Homo sapiens: one gene and its partners. The protein of the gene in region 1 interacts with the protein of each later gene in a pairwise test. Each region holds a gene or a part of one and is shown in the gene's direction. Other genes may lie near its edges. The genes, in order: MAML3, ZZZ3, NID2, SCMH1, NFX1 and RAI1.

Evidence for each region.
Region 2: the proteins of MAML3 (region 1) and ZZZ3 interact in a two-hybrid assay, tested with the Homo sapiens proteins (one large-scale study listed by BioGRID and IntAct).
Region 3: the proteins of MAML3 (region 1) and NID2 interact in a two-hybrid assay, tested with the Homo sapiens proteins (one large-scale study listed by BioGRID).
Region 4: the proteins of MAML3 (region 1) and SCMH1 interact in a two-hybrid assay, tested with the Homo sapiens proteins (one large-scale study listed by BioGRID and IntAct).
Region 5: the proteins of MAML3 (region 1) and NFX1 interact in a two-hybrid assay, tested with the Homo sapiens proteins (one large-scale study listed by BioGRID and IntAct).
Region 6: the proteins of MAML3 (region 1) and RAI1 interact in a two-hybrid assay, tested with the Homo sapiens proteins (one large-scale study listed by BioGRID and IntAct).

The regions. Positions count from the first base shown.
Region 1 is NC_000004.12:140,147,685-140,151,184, reverse strand, and holds part of MAML3 (mastermind-like protein 3), read left to right. Parts: intron 1-3,500. UniProt on the Homo sapiens protein: Acts as a transcriptional coactivator for NOTCH proteins. Has been shown to amplify NOTCH-induced transcription of HES1.
Region 2 is NC_000001.11:77,564,788-77,567,658, reverse strand, and holds part of ZZZ3 (ZZ-type zinc finger-containing protein 3), read left to right. Parts: intron 1-1,477; coding exon 1,478-1,578; intron 1,579-1,874; coding exon 1,875-2,019; 3' UTR 2,020-2,871.
Region 3 is NC_000014.9:52,062,560-52,066,059, reverse strand, and holds part of NID2 (nidogen-2 precursor), read left to right. Parts: intron 1-3,500.
Region 4 is NC_000001.11:41,026,702-41,029,306, reverse strand, and holds the end of SCMH1 (polycomb protein SCMH1), read left to right. Parts: intron 1-561; coding exon of another isoform or gene 562-580; coding exon 581-723; exon of another isoform or gene 724-774; intron 775-987; coding exon 988-1,113; 3' UTR 1,114-2,105; downstream 2,106-2,605. UniProt on the Homo sapiens protein: Associates with Polycomb group (PcG) multiprotein complexes; the complex class is required to maintain the transcriptionally repressive state of some genes.
Region 5 is NC_000009.12:33,304,016-33,307,515, forward strand, and holds part of NFX1 (transcriptional repressor NF-X1), read left to right. Parts: intron 1-3,178; coding exon 3,179-3,284; intron 3,285-3,500. UniProt on the Homo sapiens protein: Binds to the X-box motif of MHC class II genes and represses their expression. May play an important role in regulating the duration of an inflammatory response by limiting the period in which MHC class II molecules are induced by interferon-gamma.
Region 6 is NC_000017.11:17,680,147-17,684,257, forward strand, and holds the start of RAI1 (retinoic acid-induced protein 1), read left to right. Parts: upstream 1-1,311; 5' UTR 1,312-1,647; intron 1,648-3,399; exon of another isoform or gene 3,400-3,557; intron 3,558-3,918; exon of another isoform or gene 3,919-4,111. UniProt on the Homo sapiens protein: Transcriptional regulator of the circadian clock components: CLOCK, BMAL1, BMAL2, PER1/3, CRY1/2, NR1D1/2 and RORA/C. Positively regulates the transcriptional activity of CLOCK a core component of the circadian clock.

The DNA.
Region 1 (3,500 bases):
CTCTTGCCCGCCTTCTTCCTCCCTTTTGGAACGTGGCCGTGGGGGAGGGAGCGGGAGGCGCTTTGTCCGCCTCGCGGCCCAGCTCAGACCCCGGGGCCGCTGGGCTGGGAGGGGTGCTGCGCCCCGTGGCCCTGCCCGCTTCATCGCGGCTGTCCCCGCCCCGCCGCGCCCCCCATGCCCCCGCGTCCCTCCTCTCCGCTCCCCCTGCGGCTGAGCCTGCCCCGAGCGCGAAGAAGGGGCCGTCTCGGTTGGTTTTGAGGAAGAACGACAGTTCGAGTCGGGGGAGGTTCTCGCTTTACAAACAGGAAACCGAAAACCACTGACACACTGTAGTTTTTCTGATTGTAGCCGGAGGCGGGGCCGGTCCCGCATCTCGACTGTAGCTCCGGTCCCTTTCTCCAACCTATTTCTCTCCCAGCCCCCGCCCCCCTAGCGCCCTTCCACGGAGGAGGAGATTCACTTTGTGAACCTGAGACTGAGAATTTAAGAGGCACTGAAGGTTTCATGCCTGCCCACCCCGCGTCCTCTTTTCGTGTATTTGTACACCCCACGCGCATGGATTGCGGAGAAATGGGCTCCTTTCGGGAGGCTCCAAAATTCCCGTGCCACAGAATCTCTCACAACCTTTGGGGATCAAGGACTGCTGTGGCGTTTACCTCGCCAGCTGGGGGACCCTGGAACAAAAGCCAGTGCCGTTCCCAGTGCCGGGTCTCTGGACACGGCAAGATGAGTAGAGTTTGCGACCAGAAACTTTCGGTGTTTGGGTTGTGTTCTCTGGTTTCCGCCCTGGTGGAGGGAGGGCTCGGGTGCGCGCGCCTGGTTTGTGATACACTCGCAGGTGGAAGCAAGCCCAGCCTCCTGACCTTACTGGGAAGAAGACAGCAAGCCCAAGCCACAGCTTACTTTTGAAAATAGAAAGATAATGCTTGCTTCAATAGACAGAGACATCAGCTGTAGATTTCATAGTGAATCCCAGTTTAGCAAATTAGCAACAAATAGACTTGAAAGATGACTGCGTGAAAATAAAATTTTCTGTCATTTTATGACAATGATTTAGCCTGTTGATTAGACTTACGCACTAATAAATGCCAGGGCTGTGTACAGAATAGGAGTGTATTTTAGCTTCAGCTGTTTCACATGCATCTCTCACTGGTATGTGTGATGAGTGTGATGAATGTAATGTAAGCCTTAACTCTTAAGCAGAGTTGCAAGTAAATTCTGTGTACCAAAAAAAAAAAAAAAAAAGAAAGAAACATGCTCTACAAGTTATATTTCCTTTTAAAATAATTAGTTTAAAAGTTAACCTTGGCTTCTGAGAGTATTTTAACAGTCTGTATTGAGGTAAAATCTCAAAAATAGAGGTTGTAAAGAAAACGTTGCTCTTCATTTTCTTGAATTGACTGCAGGATTATAGTTGTACTCCAGTGAGGCACAGAACAATTAAATGTAGTTCTCAGATTGGGCGCTCTATTTGGAAAGCCCTAAAGAAAAACAATGATCACCCACAACCAAATAATAATAACGGTGATATAAAAATAAAGATGAATAGGATTCTTTACTGTTTCATTGGTATTGTTTACTTTCTAAGGACCAATATGTCCGAAGTACTAAATATCGATTAATTATCTTTCTGCCTCGCTTGGATTAAGAAGGCAGTCTAATGAGGGCTTTGCCTCTTTTGATTTGTTTTCCTATCTTACACATTTACAAGAATGGGCATGAAAAACAACAACAAAAAAATAGCAAACAAAAAGCAGAGTGGGTGAGGGGTAAAAAATTTTCCTTGGCTCCAGGCTGCCACAGAGGGGGCTGGGTTCTGTGTGAGTCCTCACCAGCCCTGTTGATAGAGCAGGTGGCACAGACCTGGGTTTGAAGCTGCACTACCTCAGGTATTAGGTCCGTTCTGAACATGTAGTCAAATGATCCCATCCCAACCACCACCACTTTATTGACATAGTTTTTTTCTTCCCCTCAAAGACTTGGTGAAAATTATTGACTTCACCTATCAGAGAGCCTCAGTTGAAAAGATGGCTTTTAATTATTTGTGGTAACAAAAGGGGGCATTGTTTATTTGCTGTATTTGGAACTGAGGTCCTGGTTAAAATTTTAAGGCAAATTTCAATTGACAAGTACATTTTCAAGCTGAGCAGGCACATCAAAAAGCATGACAGTGCACAGTTTTCAAAATTTTAAAATGGTGATAGTCTTAGTTGACTTAGATAAGACCATATTATTTTCATGACCTCTTCACTGTATTAGCACCATCGTAACTTTCAGAGTGTGCTTAATTTATATACAGCTTACAGACTGCATAAATCTATGTGACCCCTGTTCTGAAGAGCTTATCACAAAAAATTCATAACATGCATTTAATAATAAATGCGTTATTACCGAGTATTGGAGACAACTACAACCCATCCAAAATGTTCCATCCATTCCTGGAATAGATTCAGGAAATGTCAACATATTAGTCCACTGCTGAATGTCCTTATACGTTAATCTGGCTTCCCATTTCTTACCCTGTTGAAGGTAAATTACTGGCTCTGTATCAATTTTTTTGGCAAGCTCGTATTACCAAGCTATTTCTACATCTTCCCTATGATAACCTTTTCTTTGGCTTATCCTGTTCTGCCGCTAGCATGGGTAACAGGACAGACTGTCTTTCGGAAAGCTTTCCATTGCCCAACACAGCATGCCTTAAGTTTGTGGAAAACTTTTTGAAATTTTGTTTTTTCTGTCCTTCATATGTATTTTTTTCTTTTAATTCTCAAGAAGCATTTTTTTAAGCTCCAATACATGTTTAATTCTATTATGTTATTTGGTTGTGGTATATTTTATTTAGTACTGGGCAGCCAGTGGTCAGAAAAGTAGAAGCAGAGTTAGTTAAGCATTAATCATAATCTACAAAATGCTCTTCAAGCTGAGTTCCTTCCCAGGGAAAGCCAAGTTTTCAGGAAGCTAGTATGCTTGATACTTTCTATCCTGTCTCATTAGAATTATAAGGGCAAACTTTAGAATCTTTTTTAGGATTTCTGCCACCTGATAGGAGAAAAATGGGCAGTCCTGTACATAGTTTACTGACATCTCTGGAAGAAGAAGGATGAGGAATTTAATAGTAAAATAGAGTTATATGGAGTTATTTTCTGAATATCGCTGTGAGACTAATGGCCAACTGTTGTTAAAGAAGTTTTCCTGCCCATTTGGTTGAGATAGGAATATAAGGCATTTCTCTCTCTCATGCATGCACGTGCACACACACACACACACATTCACTCATTCACTCACTCACCCTGGTGTGAGTGTCATAGAAGGGATCCAGTGTAAGAACCTGTTTTGCATGTTAAATAGTAATTCTTGGATATATTTGAAGTACTTGTGTGATTACTGTTCCCTGTTTGTTAAGTAACAGTCCTGTCTTATACTCTTGAGCTTAAAAAGGCTAAATTCTGTTGTCTTTTTCCACATTACCCATCTTGGAGAACTGTGAAATCAATCAAACA
Region 2 (2,871 bases), on another chromosome or scaffold:
TTCATTCTCATAAGGAATTTAGAGAAGTTAAACAAAATAGTTGAGCGTGGCTAGAGTACATACTAGAGAGTAGTTAGAGGCTGCTTGCACCGCCTTATAAATTTTGCCAAGGAGCTCACACTATCCTGAGAGGTTGGTGGGGGGAACCATTGAATGATTTTAAGCAGAAAGTAACATGACATTTACGTTTTGGAAAGAATCATTCTAGTTACTTAAACTATTGGGGGTGATGATCTTTAGGAAAGCAGTGGGTTTGGAACTGACCAGCTTTTCCCCTCATCATTTTGGCCATAGTATGGAAACTTAATTAGAGGAAGGCAAGACTAGAGTCAAGGAAACTGGTTAGAGATTCTTTTGATAATTTAGACAAAAGAGGAGGGTGTCCTGAACTTGACTGGTGGCCATGGAAATAAAGATTGGCAAGTTTGAGAAGCCTTTAGGCATTAGAATTGACTTGGTTGGACTGGAGGAAGTAATAATGAGACCATAAACTTGGTGGTGTTGGTGGGTGCACATGAAAGTACTGATGTGTGCTGTGACTGGTAAACCAAATTAAAAACAAAGTTATACCTTTGATCCTCTAGAGTAGCCAGTAACCATACTATATTAAATGATTTTCCCTCTTGATCTTTCAGTGACCCTGTTTCTCCAATAGAGATTTTCCTAACTGGCAGCTCTGGCCTTTCAGAAAAACTTGCTTCACTTCTCCTAATTTTGCTGCAAAACCCAGCCATGGCTTGTTTGCCATTCTGTCAGCCACTATAGTTGACCAGATGATCAAAGAAACTAGAAATGATAGATCCTTTGATTTCCAAAAGTGCACAGAACACACTGAGGACTGTCACAATGCCACCACGCTGAGAAAGAGCTAGATCTGCCTTTTTGACATGATGGGCATTGGTTATTAGGAGTCTTTAGGCTTTGGGAGAGCGATTCAATAAGAGATAAAAGTTTAGACAGAATTTCATTGTTGCCTGGGTTTATGTTAGCCAAGAGAACCTGCTAAAACAATTCTGTATCAATTACCAACAGTGAAGCACTACAGGAGGCAGCTGTGGCATTGCTTCCTTAACCAGTATTTGGATAGTTTTAACTATGGTATTAACTCTCTGTTTCTCAACCATAGTCATCATACAGTGGTCTGAGGTACCTTTCAAGTAGATGATTACAAATAACAAAACACCCAAGTTGGAGATGATTTACTTTTAAAAATTTTTAAATAAATTTAAGCTGATTGAAGATTATCCCTTCCAATGTTCCTCTCACTCACCCATATCTTGATATTGAGTGGATGGAATTTTACCTAGTTTGCTAGAAATTGTCTCTAACACATAACCATTTGTGTGTTATATTACTGTCCTGTGCATGGAGAGAGAAGAGAAGATGTCTGTGTGCACATCATGTGTTTCCTTGTGGAAAATAAAAAAGATCGTGGAACAGTATAACTTAATACATTTTCTCTCTGAATCTGTTATAGTGTGATAACTGTGGCATAGAACCCATCCAGGGTGTTCGGTGGCATTGCCAGGATTGTCCTCCAGAAATGTCTTTGGATTTCTGTGATTCTTGTTCAGACTGGTAAGTGTTTTCTTCATTGTCAGTCTTCAACTTAGACAAGAAAAGAGCTTCTCAGCCATTAGTGAATTTGATTTCCAAACATAGAAAATATTAATACCCACACTTAGTGAATTAAATTTTGTTGTTCTAGGCAATTAATTTTTTTCTGTAATCATACCACATGTCAAGTAACTTTCCGTTGGAGATTTTGATAGATTAATGGATTTAAACAGGGAGAGCTGTGAGGAAGCTTTGTAATACACAGACTAAAATGCATCCACTACCATGTAATGATGTGTGTCTTTTTTTCTTTACAGTCTACATGAAACAGATATTCACAAGGAAGATCACCAATTAGAACCTATTTATAGGTCAGAGACATTCTTAGACAGAGACTACTGTGTGTCTCAGGGCACCAGTTACAATTACCTTGACCCAAACTACTTTCCAGCAAACAGATGACATGGAAGAGAACATCATTTACTAGTCCTCTTCAACACATAGCAATGGTATCATTGTTAATTATGTGCACAGTTTGGAAAGATTCTCTGCTTTCCCAGAAATGACACTCACAGCATGAGAGCTTCCTGAGTGTTCTCGTCAAGTACAGCTCTGCACCGTTGTGGCTCTAGATCACTGTTCAGCAGCTGAACATTCCTGGTGAGCAAAGGTTTCCCTGGTGAATTTTTCACCACTGCGTTTTAGGTGGTGATCTTAAATGGGTGAGATGGAACGAGAGCACACATTAAAGAGAGAGTAAATTCCAAAGGTTTCAAAGAACTTGGTCATAAATATGATAATGAGAAGACAAAGTATTTATATTAAAACAGTTTAGTAGCCTTCAGTTTTGTGAAAATAGTTTTCAGCACAGAAACTGACTTCTTTAGACAAAGTTTTAACCAATGATGGTGTTTGCTTCTAGGATATACACTTTAAAAGAACTCACTGTCCCAGTGGTGGTCATTGATGGCCTTTAGTAAATTGGAGCTGCTTAATCATATTGATATCTAATTTCTTTTAACCACAATGAATTGTCCTTAATTACCAACAGTGAAGCACTACAGGAGGCAACTGTGGCATTGCTTCCTTAACCAGCTCATGGTGTGTGAATGTTATAAAATTGTCACTCAGATATATTTTTTAAATGTAATGTTATATAAGATGATCATGTGATGTGTACAAACTATGGTGAAAAGTGCCAGTGGTAGTAACTGTGTAAAGTTTCTAATTCACAACATTAATTCCTTTAAAATACACAGCCTTCTGCCTCTGTATTTGGAGTTGTCAGTACAACTCATCAAAGAAAACTGCCTA
Region 3 (3,500 bases), on another chromosome or scaffold:
GAAAACTAGAAATACCATTTGACCCAGCCATCCCATTACTGGGTATATACCCAAAGGACTATAAATCATGCTGCTATAAAGACACATGCACACGTATGTTTATTGCGGCACTATTCACAATAGCAAAGACTTGGAACCAACCCAAATGTCCAACAATGATAGACTGGATTAAGAAAATGTGGCACATATACACCATGGAATACTATGCAGCCTTAAAAAATGATGAGTTCATGTCCTTTGTAGGGACATGGATGAAATTGGAAACCATCATTCTCAGTAAACTATCGCAAGAACAAAAAACCAAACACTGCATATTCTCACTCATAGGTGGGAATTGAACAATGAGATCACATGGACACAGGAAGGGGAATATCACACTCTGGGGACTGTGGTGGGGTTGGGGGAGGGGGGAGGGATAGCATTGGGAGATATACCTAATGCTAGATGACACGTTAGTGGGTGCAGCGCACCAGCATGGCACATGTATACATATGTAACTAACCTGCACAATGTGCACATGTACCCTAAAACTTAGAGTATAATAAAAAATAAATAAATAAATAAATAAATAAATAAAAAAGAAAGGGGAAAAAAAAAAAAAAAGAAAGGAGGATTCTGTTTGGATAGGGGATGTTCTTTCAATTACCCACATTGAAGTTTCTTCCAATATTTTAAAGAGCTCTGGGACTTGAGTTCTTGTTTTAATAGTTCTTTGGAGATAGACTTTGGCAAACAGTAATCTAATTTGCTTGAAGGACTGAGTTCTACATGGCGTTCTTAAAGTTTGGCTTACTAACTTTATATTGCAAAGTTACTGGAAACTGGAAGATTCAAAGCAATGGCATCTTTGCCATTAAAAACAATTGCAGTTGGTGCCCTTTTTCTCCATGGATATTCCTGTCAGGTGTGACCAGATGTTGCACCTGATATTGCAGGAATGTCAAGGTGTAATTGTATCTGAAAAAAAAATGTGAACAAATAGTGTTTGTCAATTCAGTTAATCTGAGATTTCTTGAACTCTCATAGGTAGTTCACAGAGCAAAAAAGTTATGGTGTAGACCTTTGAAATACTTATTGATGGGAGACATAGAGGACTAATGTTTAGCTGTGCTTTTTGTGGGGAAAGAGGAGTGTTTTGTTTTTGTCATTTTAGGGATGGGGTTAGAGACAGCTGAGTTATATAGATCTCTGTAATGTGGGGAATGTTTTGTTTATCTGGAATTTAAGTCAGGTTGAAAGGGCTAAAAAGAATGGATATTGAGAATGAGGTATCAAGAGAGATTGTTCTGAGCAAAAACATGACCCAGGAGAAGGTTGAGAGAGCAACCTATTAGCAAAGGGGCCAGAGAAATGGATGAAGGAGTCACAGGCAGTAACATAAGACAGATGAGTGCAAGGTTGCCCGCTATGGTTGAATATTTGTCCCCTCTGAAAATCATGTTGAAACTTAATCCTCAATGTGACAGTATTGAGAGGTGGGGCCTTTGAAAGGTGACTGGGTCATGAGGGCTCTGCCCTCAGGAATGGATTAATTTATTCATTCATGGATTACTGGATTATCATGGAGTGGGCCTGGTTGCTTTATAAGAAGAGGAATTGAGACCTGAGCTAGCACATTAGCACACTCAGCTTTGTCGCCATGTGATACCGTAAGTACCCTGGCACTCTGCAGTCACCACTAGCCAGAAGGCCCTCACCAGATGTGACCTCTCAACTTTGGACTTCTCAGCCTCCATAATTGTAAGAAGTAAATTCCTTTTCTTTGTGAATTACCCAATTTCAAGTATTTTGTTGTAAACAACAGAAGACAAATTAAGACACTGCCCAATGGAGGCCTCCATCTGGGTGGAGACTGAGACATGTTGACTTGGTTCAAAGGTTGATAGTCATTGATGGAGGTGGTTGGATTTCACAGAGAAAATGAGAGGTAAAAGCAGGACTTTATTGTAGCTTTTTGACTTCTGGAGACAAGGTTTAGAAGAGGGGTGGTCTACAGCCCATCCAAGAGAGTTCAGACTGAGTCTGAGATATCACTGTGAAGATGAAGAGAATAGAGACATATATGGAAATTGGTTAATGCTGAACCATATATGGAAATTAGAAATGCTGACGTTTTGCTGAAGAGTATCAGGAAGGATATAGTATTAGGGATGTGATAGCACTCAGCATTTGTCTTTGAATTTTTGGCAGGATCTGTAGGATTTAGTGCAGTAAAATAAATGAGGGACAGTCCCCCATGTGACAGTGTCCTACAGGCAGTGGGAGATGAAGAACTACACTAAGGAATGGAGGTTAGTGTTCACAGCAAACACTGGAGGCCAGACCCAATGATCCTAGAGCTCTAGAGGACATGTGGTCCTGAGGAAGATGACAAAGAGAACTTTGTGACCCCTATAAGAGTCACCCTAATTCTTCATTTCCATTTTCATTTTCATTTTGATAAGCCTCTATAGGCAAGCCCCTTGAAGAAAAGGATGTCACTATTCTGATTTTTGTCCAGATAGCTGCAGTTAATTAAATGAATTGAAAAAATTAGAAACTCTTAGAGGGGTGTATGTTGCATGCATCAGCCTGGCTCTGATGAGTGTCACTTCAACATTGATTGGGATGTCCTGTACCTGGGAGGGAGAGTCAGGCTCTGGTTTCTGCAGAGGGCTCTGGCTTTTCTCTCTTTCTGATAACAGGGCCTGCAGCCACTCACCCTGATCCTCTCTGTGCTGCTCCTCTCCCTGTGGAGGCCCCTCTCTCCTCTCTGGGATCCTGGGGGAGCTGGGAACCAGTGACTCGTTTGTCAGGTTTGGCAGCCCATCTGAGGGCTTCTCTTTGGAGACAGAGCCTGTGCGGCTCTTGCAAAAGCTTGTATCTAGGAATGTGAGGACCTTTCCTGTTTGGAAGCCAGTCAAGGAGTTTTTTGAGAGGGGGAGCCCTTCAAGACTTCATGAAGTGGGCTCTTTAGCAATTAGATGTAGAATTTTGTAGAACTGACCAAGAACTTTACAAGTGATCATTTAGTGTGTGGGTGGCTTTTAAACAGCCAAACTCTTTTGGCGTGTACTTTGGGATCATAAATTCTACTTAAAAGGAAGTTGTTTCCTTCCTCTGATATTTGCCTATTTTGGTGGAGACAAAGAAATTAAATACTTGCCACCCATAATGAGTGCTCATCTCAAGAACAGTATATAGAAGATGTTGAATAAATTTTAATTGAAATGAATTTGTTGGCTGGTTGAATGAATGAATGAATAAAATAAAGTGCTAAATGCCCAGAGTTCACAGCAAAAAGTCAGACTCTCCTCTTCACAGCTCTGTTTACTACTCTCTTCCCCCCTTCCCCATCCCCTTCAATTCTTCACAGTCTCTACAACCTCCTTATCTTATGGAATTTCTCTAAATTTAGAACCAGGATTCTCTCCTATCTCACATTTATTATGGCAGATCAATGCCAGGAGCTTTGAAAGCTTAGCTTTTTGAAATGGGGTTTTTTCTCCTTCCTCTAGTAC
Region 4 (2,605 bases), on another chromosome or scaffold:
TGGGAGGCAGAAGTTGCAGTGAGCTGAGATGGCGCCACTGCACTCCAGCCCCTGGGTGACAGAGCGAGACTCCATCTCAAAGAAACCAAAAAACCAGCTTCTGCCTTAGTGTATCAGGCTGTAATGAGGTCACCTATTCTCCAGGCCTTGGAAAAGAATCCAGGGTATTTTTTGCCCACGTGCCAAGGATTTGTCTCTAATCTTACCAGGCTACCAGTCTCTCTAGAAATGGTCCCCCAGAGCCAAGGCAAAAACAGCCCCACTCACCAGGCCCCCCAGACACCCAAATAGTCCCCTTACCATGTTGGTACCACTGTCTCAGGTTTGGGCTGAATCATAGCCTCAATGCAAAATTTCTTCTGGCCATTTCCAAAAATCAGATCTACCCTTAAAAAACAAAGATTTGGCTTTCCCTTTGTGAAGAAATGCTTCCCTCCCCCAGCTATCTCCAGTTCCTCAGCTCATCGTCTGGCACTACTGTGAGCATCACCTAGAAGGCCACTGAGATGTGCCAAGGAGAGTGGTGGGGATTTACAAACCAGTCCCCGCCCTTTATGGTAGGTGCCCTCCTGTCCTGCAGGGTCGGACCGATACCTGGAGAGCCGCGATGCCTCTCGACTGAGTGGCCGGGACCCCTCCTCATGGACAGTCGAGGATGTGATGCAGTTTGTCCGGGAAGCTGATCCTCAGCTTGGACCCCACGCTGACCTGTTTCGCAAACACGTAGGTGCTGCTGCCTGACCTCTCAGTAGGAACCTGTGTGGAGAGCCTCACCTGGTGGGGACAATACGAGATGTTTGGGGAGGAGGGATGCTTAGAGACAAAGGCTGAGGAGAACAGGTAGGCTTCAGCATCACAGCAGGTGAACTGGACTCCATGTGGCGGGCACTTCCCAGGATGGCCTATAATCAGAACCTGGGGTGGTCAGACCAACCAGGACTCTGATGGTGCCTCCCTTCCACTTCTGCCCACCTCCCCACCCCCCAGGAGATCGATGGCAAGGCCCTGCTGCTGCTGCGCAGTGACATGATGATGAAGTACATGGGCCTGAAGCTGGGGCCTGCACTCAAGCTCTCCTACCACATTGACCGGCTGAAGCAGGGCAAGTTCTGAACCAGGAGAGGCAGCCTAGACAACCAAGTGGCAGCAGGTGGGGGCATTCTTCTAGGAATGAGGGGCATCAGCCCACCCCAGGCACCTCAGTGGGGTTCCGGGCCACCTCAGGACTCCAAGAGGCTGTGTGGAGCCACCACTCCTAGCCACAGCTGCCATGATAAGTCCTTCCATGAAGGACTGAGGAGGGAGAGTGGGGGTCCAGGGCTGGTGCTGCTCTTCCCTCAGCTCTGCCGGGGCTCTAAGGTCCCTCTATTTATTTCTCAACCCTGGCTGGCCTCTCACCAGGAGTTTAGGCTGAATGCCTTCCACGTGATGGAGGAAAAGGCCAACTCTGTCCTGGTCTTGCTGTGGCACCCCATCGCCCCACAGCTCGTACCTTCTCACCAGATTCCCCTGAATCCAAACTCGTGGTGCAAACCTCTACCTTTTTTACAAAAAGATCTTATTGTTAATTTATTGTTTCTGGCACTTGGGCAAACCCTGTAGTTAATACTCCTCCCACACTAGACACTGGGTTTCAGGAGGAGGGAGACTGCCCTGCTTTGGTCCCAGAGAGGCCCTCTGCAGATAGGCGTGGCCCCTCTTCAGAGGACACTACCCTAGGGCACTTTCTCTTTGAGGTGGAGAGACCCATAAAGCCTTGACCACATCACTCCATATGGGGAGGAGAAGGATCCCTGTCACCTTCTCCTCTCTTCACGGGGCCCTTTTGCAGCCCTAGGCCTCATCTGTGGGAAGGGAGTCCCTGGCTTATACTGCCCCCACCACAGCTCCTTGCCCTGGCCAGAACTGCTGTCGAAGAAAATCAGGCCGGAAGGCCAAGAAGGCGCTAAGGGGGATGGGAGGGCAGGTTTTCCAGGCTGGAGTCGGTTCCACCCACTCGCCTGTCCACAGGCTTCCTTGTAAGCAAGTCAGCAGCACAGCTACTCACGCTGCCATCTGGACTTATTTTATGTCAATCTGTTTATAAATAAAAACCAATATAGATACCAGTGTCTTTTTAATCAGTTAACAGCCAAATCACTACGCATTCATTGGACCAGTCATTCCCCTTCTCTTGGTCTTAGTTTTCTCATACATAAAACGAGGCCGAGCACGCTGGCTCATGCCTGTAATCCCAGCACTTTGGGACGCCAAGGTGGGAGGATCTCTTGAGCTCAGGAGTTTGAGACCAGCCTGGGCAACATGGTGAAACCCCAGCTCTACAAAAAAAAAATACAAAAATTAGCCTGCTGTGGTGGCGCACACCTGTAGTCCCAGCTGCTTGGGGAGCTGAGGTGAGGGGATGGCTTGAGCCTAGGAGATCGAGGCTGCAGTGAGCCGTGTTCGCACCACTGTACTCCAGCCTAGGTGACAATTTGAGACCCTGTCTCAAATAAATAAAATGGAGAGCTTGGAAAAAATGATTCCTAAGCGTCCTTCTAATTCCAGCAGTCCCTAAAGAACAGGTGGTCTTCCGAATGTCCACCAGAGCCCCAGCATCACACAG
Region 5 (3,500 bases), on another chromosome or scaffold:
CAGCACTTTGGGAGGCCAAGGTAGGTGGATCACCTGAGATCAGGAGTTCGACACCAGCCTGGCCAACATGGTGAAACCCCGTCTCTACTAAAATAAGTTAGCTGGGCATAGTGTTGCATGTCTGTAATCCCAGCTACTTGGGAGGCTGAGGCAGGAGAATCGCTTGAACCTGGGAGGCAGAGGTTGCAATGATCCAAGATCATGCCATTGCACTCCAGCCTGGGCGACAGAGTGAGACTCCATCTCAAAAAAATAAATAAATAAAATAAAAACAAAGAAATCACCAATGACTCCTTTCCAGCCATATCTAGGGCTGATTTTATAAGCTCATAATCTTTTTGGTAGAGTGATAGCCCTTGACACCTTTGACCATTCCCTTCTTGAAATAAGTAGCTCTTCCTGTTTGTTTCTGCATGCTCTCCTTATTTTTCTAACCAATTTGCTCATATTTCTCCTTTCCCATTACTTAGCTAGCAGCTTTCACAAAGAGTCAAGTCATTTACCATCAACTCTGAATCTTCTAGATGCAATACCTTGGTGAACTCTTTGACTTCCCCTTCTTTTCTTTCAATTCTTAACCACAGTATCATTTAAGATCTGACCCCAAACACCCTCTTACAAAGGAAGCTTTCCTTTGTTATTCTCTGTCTCACTTTGGCCTCTGTTTTATTTGGAATTTTCCGGTCTTACATGTTTTATTGACAGAATCTCAGCCTTAATAGATACTAAATTGGTATTAGATGAGGGAATAAATATTCTTGAATATACTACCAGAAAGGCAGCATGAAACTGGAAGTAAGAGATCAGTGGAAATTTGGGCAAATAGGACAATACCAATACTTAATACCTTATTTTGAAGGATTACATAAAGTACCACAATGGAATTAAAAATCTTGTTAAAGCCTCTACTGGCAAATTAGATGAGAGACTCTAAGGCAGTATAAGAATGTGGAGTGAAGGTCAAGATGATCTGAAAGTGGTAAAATGATGTGAGAATGCACATAAAGGCCTTATTTGCAGATGACTTTGCCCCACACTGTTCTTCCAGGGGACCATTAATTTAACATGTTTTTATTGAGAACTTATTAATGTTCAAGGCACTGTGAAGAAACAGAGGCGAATAAAACGGTTAACTTACCAGAGCTTACAGTCTAAGAGTTAAAACACAATTAGCCTGATACTCTGCTAGAAGTACAAAGTACTATGGGAGATCTTTGGGGTAGTTACGACTTACAGCTGGATGATTAAGAGAAGCCTTCTTGGAGGAGGTAGAATTGAACTGGCATTGTAAACTAGGTAAAATCTTTGTAGGCAGAAAGATATGTTGAAGGGAATAGCATAGGCAGTTCAAAATCAACAGGGTTTAGGGTATATTGGGAGAAGAGTGATTCATCCACTTACAGAGCCCAGGATCTATGATGGTAGGGGAGTGGGAGATGACTGGAAAGGAAGGGCTGACCCTTTGATACCAGTCTCAGATGTTGGGACTTCATTTGGAAGGCTGTGGGAAGCCACTGAGGGCATCAACATGATTCTTTATGGAGATTAGTTTGGTAGCAGTGAGTAGAGTATTTTGGAGCCTAAATAATTTGGGACTTATAATCCAGATGAAGAGTAGTACAAGCCTCTAAGGAGTGTGATAGAAAAATATGGTGTTAGGTTGATTCCTGACAGTAGTAGGAATGGGAGTCACCCAAAGTTTCATGCTTTTGGAAATGGTGATACCAAGGAAAAGGGCAGGTCAAAAGAAGAAGGTCTGGTGGGGACAGTGACTACAGTTTAGAAATGTTGAGCTGGAGGAGTGAGCAGAACATACAGTGAAATATGTCCAACAGGCAGGTAGCAATATTTGAGGAAAGACCAGGACTTAAGGATGAGAATCACAGCTGAGAGGAGTAGTTAAGACCCTAGCGGATGAAAGGGTACAGAGTGAGAAAAGGGTGTAATGCAGAACACTTGCAGGGGAAAGAAAAGCAAAAAACCCCAAAACATCATTTGGAGTCAGGGACAAAAGGTAGAGCTCTTGAGAGATGTTAGAGGAAAACCAGGGCACTGTATTGGAGCAAAAAAGCACAGAGGCAGGGAGGCTTTTGTGATAGTCTGGAGATGAGGTTTTGGCCAGTTAGAGAGGCAGGAACAGGAGAGCGATGAGGTGAGAGCCACTTTGTAGGAAAAATTGACACAACTTGGTGATTAAGTAGAAAGAGGTGTCAGAGATGACTGTAGTTTTTGAGCGTGTGTGACTCTGACAGAGTTGACGTCACTGACAGAAATAGGAAACCCTGAAAAGGGAGGAGTTATAGAGGGAAGATGTGAACTTTGACTGTGGATAAAGCCAGTTTGAGGTGACTGTGAAACCCCAAGCAAGAATGTTCAGCAGACATTTGGACATATGGGTCTGAAACTGAAGATTCAGGGCAAGAGAGAAAATGTGGATTTGGGGATCAATGGCCTTTAGGTGGATTGCACCTCTCAACATGAATAAAATTTCTGAAAGAGATAGTATAGAGAGAAAAGCAGAGGCCATGGACTGGGGATGGCTGCAATTTAGTGTGCAAATTGCCCAAGTGAGGATGAATTCCTCAAGGGCAAGGAGGAATCCTGTGCCTTCGTTTTACTCTTCCCTGTCTCTGCTGAGTCCATGGAAGATGTGCCATGAAGATTTGCAGTGACATTGATTATAAAAGTATAAGGTCTTTTATGCCGACTTTATAGTTCTGGAATAGGTGAGTTCCTGCTACTCGGGATTTATGTCCTTTCCATTTCTTACTGCCTCCCCCCTTTCCCCACGGTGCTCTTCTCTTATTCCCTCTCTCTGATCCTTCCAGCAGCAATTCGCATATCAGTTCAGAAGTCCAGTTATAGACGACTTGTCTTATAGGTATTTATCTTAAATTAAACGTTTCCATTAGTCAAGATAGTATTTTCGTAAGTAAAAGTGACTTTTTATTTATCTTTCCCAGGTAATCCAAGATTTAAGATTTATCATACTCAGTGAAACTTTTTATGAATAGCATTATATTTATCTTTTTATTTTAAGATATGGGATAATACATTTGTTGAAATAATAAAAACCACACTAAAGTTGCATGCTGCCTAGCTATACTTTACTGTTTCATTAAAGTTGAGAATGTGGTTGAAGTTTGTACCATTGACTCTCTGATCTGATATGTTCTAGGCAAGGTAAAGAATCCTGAGTGGAGCAGAAATGAAATTCCACATAGCTGTGGTGAGGTTTGTAGAAAGAAACAGCCTGGCCAGGACTGCCCACATTCCTGTAACCTGTAAGTTGGAATGCTAATTCCGTTGGGATTGCTGGTGGACATGCTTTGCTGGTGGCTCTAAGTAAACATACCTGGTTAGCATGTAATGGTTTGGGATGAAGGGTGATATGGGACCTCAGTAAATGGTCTCAAATCACCCTGTGCCAGGCACTCTACATCAGTTAACTTGTTGAATCCTTACCACAGCCCAGTAATAGATATTTACCATCTCTGCTT
Region 6 (4,111 bases), on another chromosome or scaffold:
CAGATGCAGGATTCACTTGTCCCAGGTCACCCACAAGCTCTGATGCCTTGACCAGCTCCCCTCTGCCCTACCAAAGGACAAATGAGGGAGGCTTCGATGGGGCTGTTAATGGGGTCATATCCCACAGACCCTAGAGCCTGGGTGGGGCTGAGAGGCTTCCCAAGCAGGTGGCAGTGAGCTCCCACCTGAGCTATGGCAAGTAGAGACCTAGGCATGAAATTGCTCCGAGGTCTGTACCTTAAGTTTCATGCAAGGACTCTCTCATTCAACATGCCTCTGTTTAAAGTCTGCCAGTGGCTACCTTCCTTGCACTAGAATTGCAAACAAATTCCTCACTGAGCTCTCTGCAGCCCTGCAGGCTCTGGCCCTCCCGATATGGCTCTGACTTCAATGTGCCCATTACTTGTCCCCTTGCTGACGGCCTCCTCACAATTCCACTTACTCACCAAGTTCTCTCCTGCCTCAGGACCTTTGCACTTGATGTTCTTTCTGCCAATGATGCTCTTCCCAGGAGGGCAGGCCCCTGTAGTCCCAGCTACTCAGAAGGCTGAGGTGGGAGGACTGTTTGAGGCCAGGAATTCAAGTTCGGCCTGGGCAACACAGCAAGACCCTGCCTCTAAAAGAACAAAATGCTCTTCCCAGACTCTACCCATGGCGGTTCCTCTTGCTATTTAGATCTTTGCACAGACAGGCCTCCTTCTCTCTCCCCCAGCCAAGGAGCCCTAGCCGTCACTTCACCTGCTAATTTTCGTCCTAGCACTTACTGCTCTAAAATTATCTTCGTCATGTATCTAAGCATTTGTTTGCTGTCTGTCTCTTCCCACCAGGATGCCAGCTCCACGACAGCAGGGACCGCATTGTCTCTGCTGATTCCTCAAGACTCAGCAAGGTGCCAGGTGCCCAGTAAATGAAGTTTACATGAAGCCAATGGAGTTTTGAAATCGAAAATGTTTCTCAAACTGCAAAGAAGTGGGCACAGGTGAGGGCTAATGGTGGGGTGAGGGTGGGGGCCTGGCCTGACGCTGGAAGCTCCTGTACGCAGGGCGCTAGTGTCCTCCCAGGCCGCACCGGGATCCCACCGCAGAGGCCCCCTCCCGCAGGCCGGCCAGCGGGCGGGGGGCGCGCAGTGGGGCGCGCGGACCGCCAGGGGGTGCTGTCGGGGCGCGCACGGCCCACCTGGCGCCCGGGGCCGCGAGCGAGCGCAGCCAGGCCGCCCGGGAACTTTTTTCCTCGCGCTCTTGCTCTCCTTCTCCCCCCGCGCGTCGCCCGCCCGCCCGTCCGCTCGTCCGCTCTTCCTGTGCGGAGGGGATCGCATTCCTCGCGGCACCCGCGGACACCAGGCAGGCCCGGCCGGGTGCGCGGCCAAGGCCCGCTCCCCGCGTCCCCGGGCGCCGCCCCCGCCCGCGGCTGGGCTCCGAGAGACGAGTGGGAGAGCGAGTGCAGCGAGGGCGAGAGGCGAGCCGAGCAGGCCGCCCTGCCCGCGGCCCTAGCGCCGGCGCGAGGAGGGGGCGCCGCGGCCCACCCTCCTTCCTGCCTGGCCGCGGGCCGGCCGGGCCGCCGCGCCCCGACCCCCATGGCCACCCAGGCCTCCGGGCCGCGAAGTCGCAGCGCCAGACCCAAGGCCCCCGAGTGAGCGCGGGCGCCGAGGTGAGCAGCGAGCGCCGGGGCGCGGGGGGCGCAGTGTATCCTGCCCCGGGGCGGGGGCGGCGCGAGGCGTCGGGATCCTAGGCCGGGTGATGAGCCGAGGCGGGTTCGGACGCCGAGCGCGCGCGCTGGGTGGAGATGTGGGGTCCGCGGGGTCCTTGCTTTGTGTGGTGTGGGGGGTGCGCGAGGTCACCGGATGGACGTCTGGGGAGCTGCAGGGTGGGGGCGCCCTGCGCCGCGGCTGAGGGTCTTCTGGGGGATGTGCGGCCAGCTGAGGTCGGGTGGGGGCATGGGGGCGCGAGGGGCGAGTGTGGCAAGGGATCTGCTTGCGCCGAGGCGCGGAGTCTTTGCGGAGCGTGGGGTGGGGACGTGGGGTGCATTCGCGGGGCGCCGGGGGCGGAGGTGAGCTTTGTGAGTGCGTCCGAGGTGGGGGACGGGGAGCTGACTTCCCCATGCGTGACCCGGGCCCGGCGTGGCCATCGCTTGGGAGTCAGGGCCGGCGAAGGCCGTGCGTGGCGAGATGGGTGCTCGGGCTCTCTGCGGTGTCCCTACCCGGGCAGCGGCCCCGGGGCCTGTGCGCAGGCCCCGAGGCCGGGCAGGAAGCGGCCCCCGCGACCTGGGGAGCTCTGTAGCGGCCAGGCCCGGGAGGCACGGGCCCTTCGGGGATGACGTCACGGGCGGGGGCCCCGGACACGCGAGCCTTGCGCCCCACAGACGGCGGCGCAGCCCGCCGCCCTTTTCGAGGCCGGCCCCCCCTCTCACGCGCCTTGAAGGCAGGGAACCCGGGAGGAGGACATGGGGGCCGAGTGCGGCGGGGACAAGGGGTGGCAGGACGCGAGGGTGACATTTGGAGCCTGGTCGCGCCAGGGGCCTCCGTGGTGGGGCGGAGGGGAAGCGAAACACCAGCCAGGCCCTAGGCCGTCGCGGCCCCAGCTTCCTGGGGCGCCCGTTTTCCCGGCTAGCAGTTTTCTTTCTTGGGGCTCTTGGTCGTTATCCAGTCCACGCAGGGGCCGGAGTGCGGGCTGCCGCGGTGCTCTCCTGCGCGGAGCCCGGGCTGGCGGGGGCGCGGCGGGCCTCGGGCTCTGAATGGATGGGAGCGAGTGTAACAATGCGCCGGTGGGGGCTGGGGGAGGGGAGGCCGCGCGCCTGAATGGCGGAGCCGGCCGGGCGCTGCTCCGCGCGCCGCACACTCTCCCGCGCCGCCTTCCCCGCGGTTTCGGCGGGCCCGGATTCAGGGACCCACTCGGGATCTGCACGGTTCCTCCCACCAATACTGTCCCCCGCCCCCCTTTTATGTCTTTCCAATGCAGTAGTGTGTTGAGAATTCAAGGGCATTACATCTGGTTGCAATCCAGTTTCATGCCGCTGCCGGGCTGTTAAGACCTCGCGCTGACGTCAGAGCAGGGGAATTACTTCTTTTTATTTTATCTTTTTTTAGTTGTCTGCTGCCCTGGGAGGAGAGGCGGGGGTGGGTTAGGCTAGCTCTGATGTGGAGGCGCCAGCGTGATGGGAGCCCCGAGCTGGGGGCTCTGCTTCTCTTCCTGCCCCTGCCCCCCTCCATTCTCCATACAGTCCTCGCTCTGCTCAGGGTCAGGCCCACCCCAGGTGGGGGGCAGCCCTCGCTGCAGACTGAATGGTGGCCCCTCCCTGCTGACCACACAGCTGGGTTTTCAGAGGCTTTCCTGGGACGTGGCCCTCGGGATCTAGAAACTGGAAAGGAATCTTCTAGTTTCCCACCCCTCCCCCTCTTGACAGGCAAGCCGGTATATTCGGGGCCCAGGAGCAAGGAAAAGTGGCCTTTTGCGTGACACAGAAGTGGACACATCATTCTGATCTCAGGGCAGGCTCAGCCCCATAACTCTGGCAAAAGCTCTCACAAGCAAAAGCCTTGGAGAGGAGGAGAATGTATCAAGGTGAGATCCAGGCCCCAGAAGCCAACTGTGGAGTGGGCAAAATAGGACCTTTCCCACCAGCCTAGCATCCCTCTGGCTTCTGTGGAGATAAAGGGAACTCAGGGGTACTGGAGCTGCCTTTCTCTTCCACTAGACTGTGGGGCTCTCATAGGCAGGGACCCTGTCTTACTCCTCTTTGTTTTATTTTTGAGACAGGGTCTTGCTGTGTGGCCCAGGCTGGAGTGCCTTGGCACAAACACAGCTCACTTCAGCCTCAACCTCCAGGGCTCAAGCGATCCTCCAGCATCAGTCTCCTGAGTAGCTGGGATCACAGGCGCCCGACACCACACGTAGCTAATTTTAAATTTTTTTTTTTTTCTAGAGACAGGGGTCTTGCCATGGCTGGTCTTGAAGTCCTGGGCTCAAGCGATCCTCCCTCTTTGGCCTCCCAAAGTGCTGGGATTACAGGAGTGAGTCACTGCACCCAGCCTTACTCCTCTTTAGACTCCCAAGCCTAGACCAATTGCTTTCAAATTCTTGCCCGTGACCTATAGTAAGAAATACATCGTAGGTAA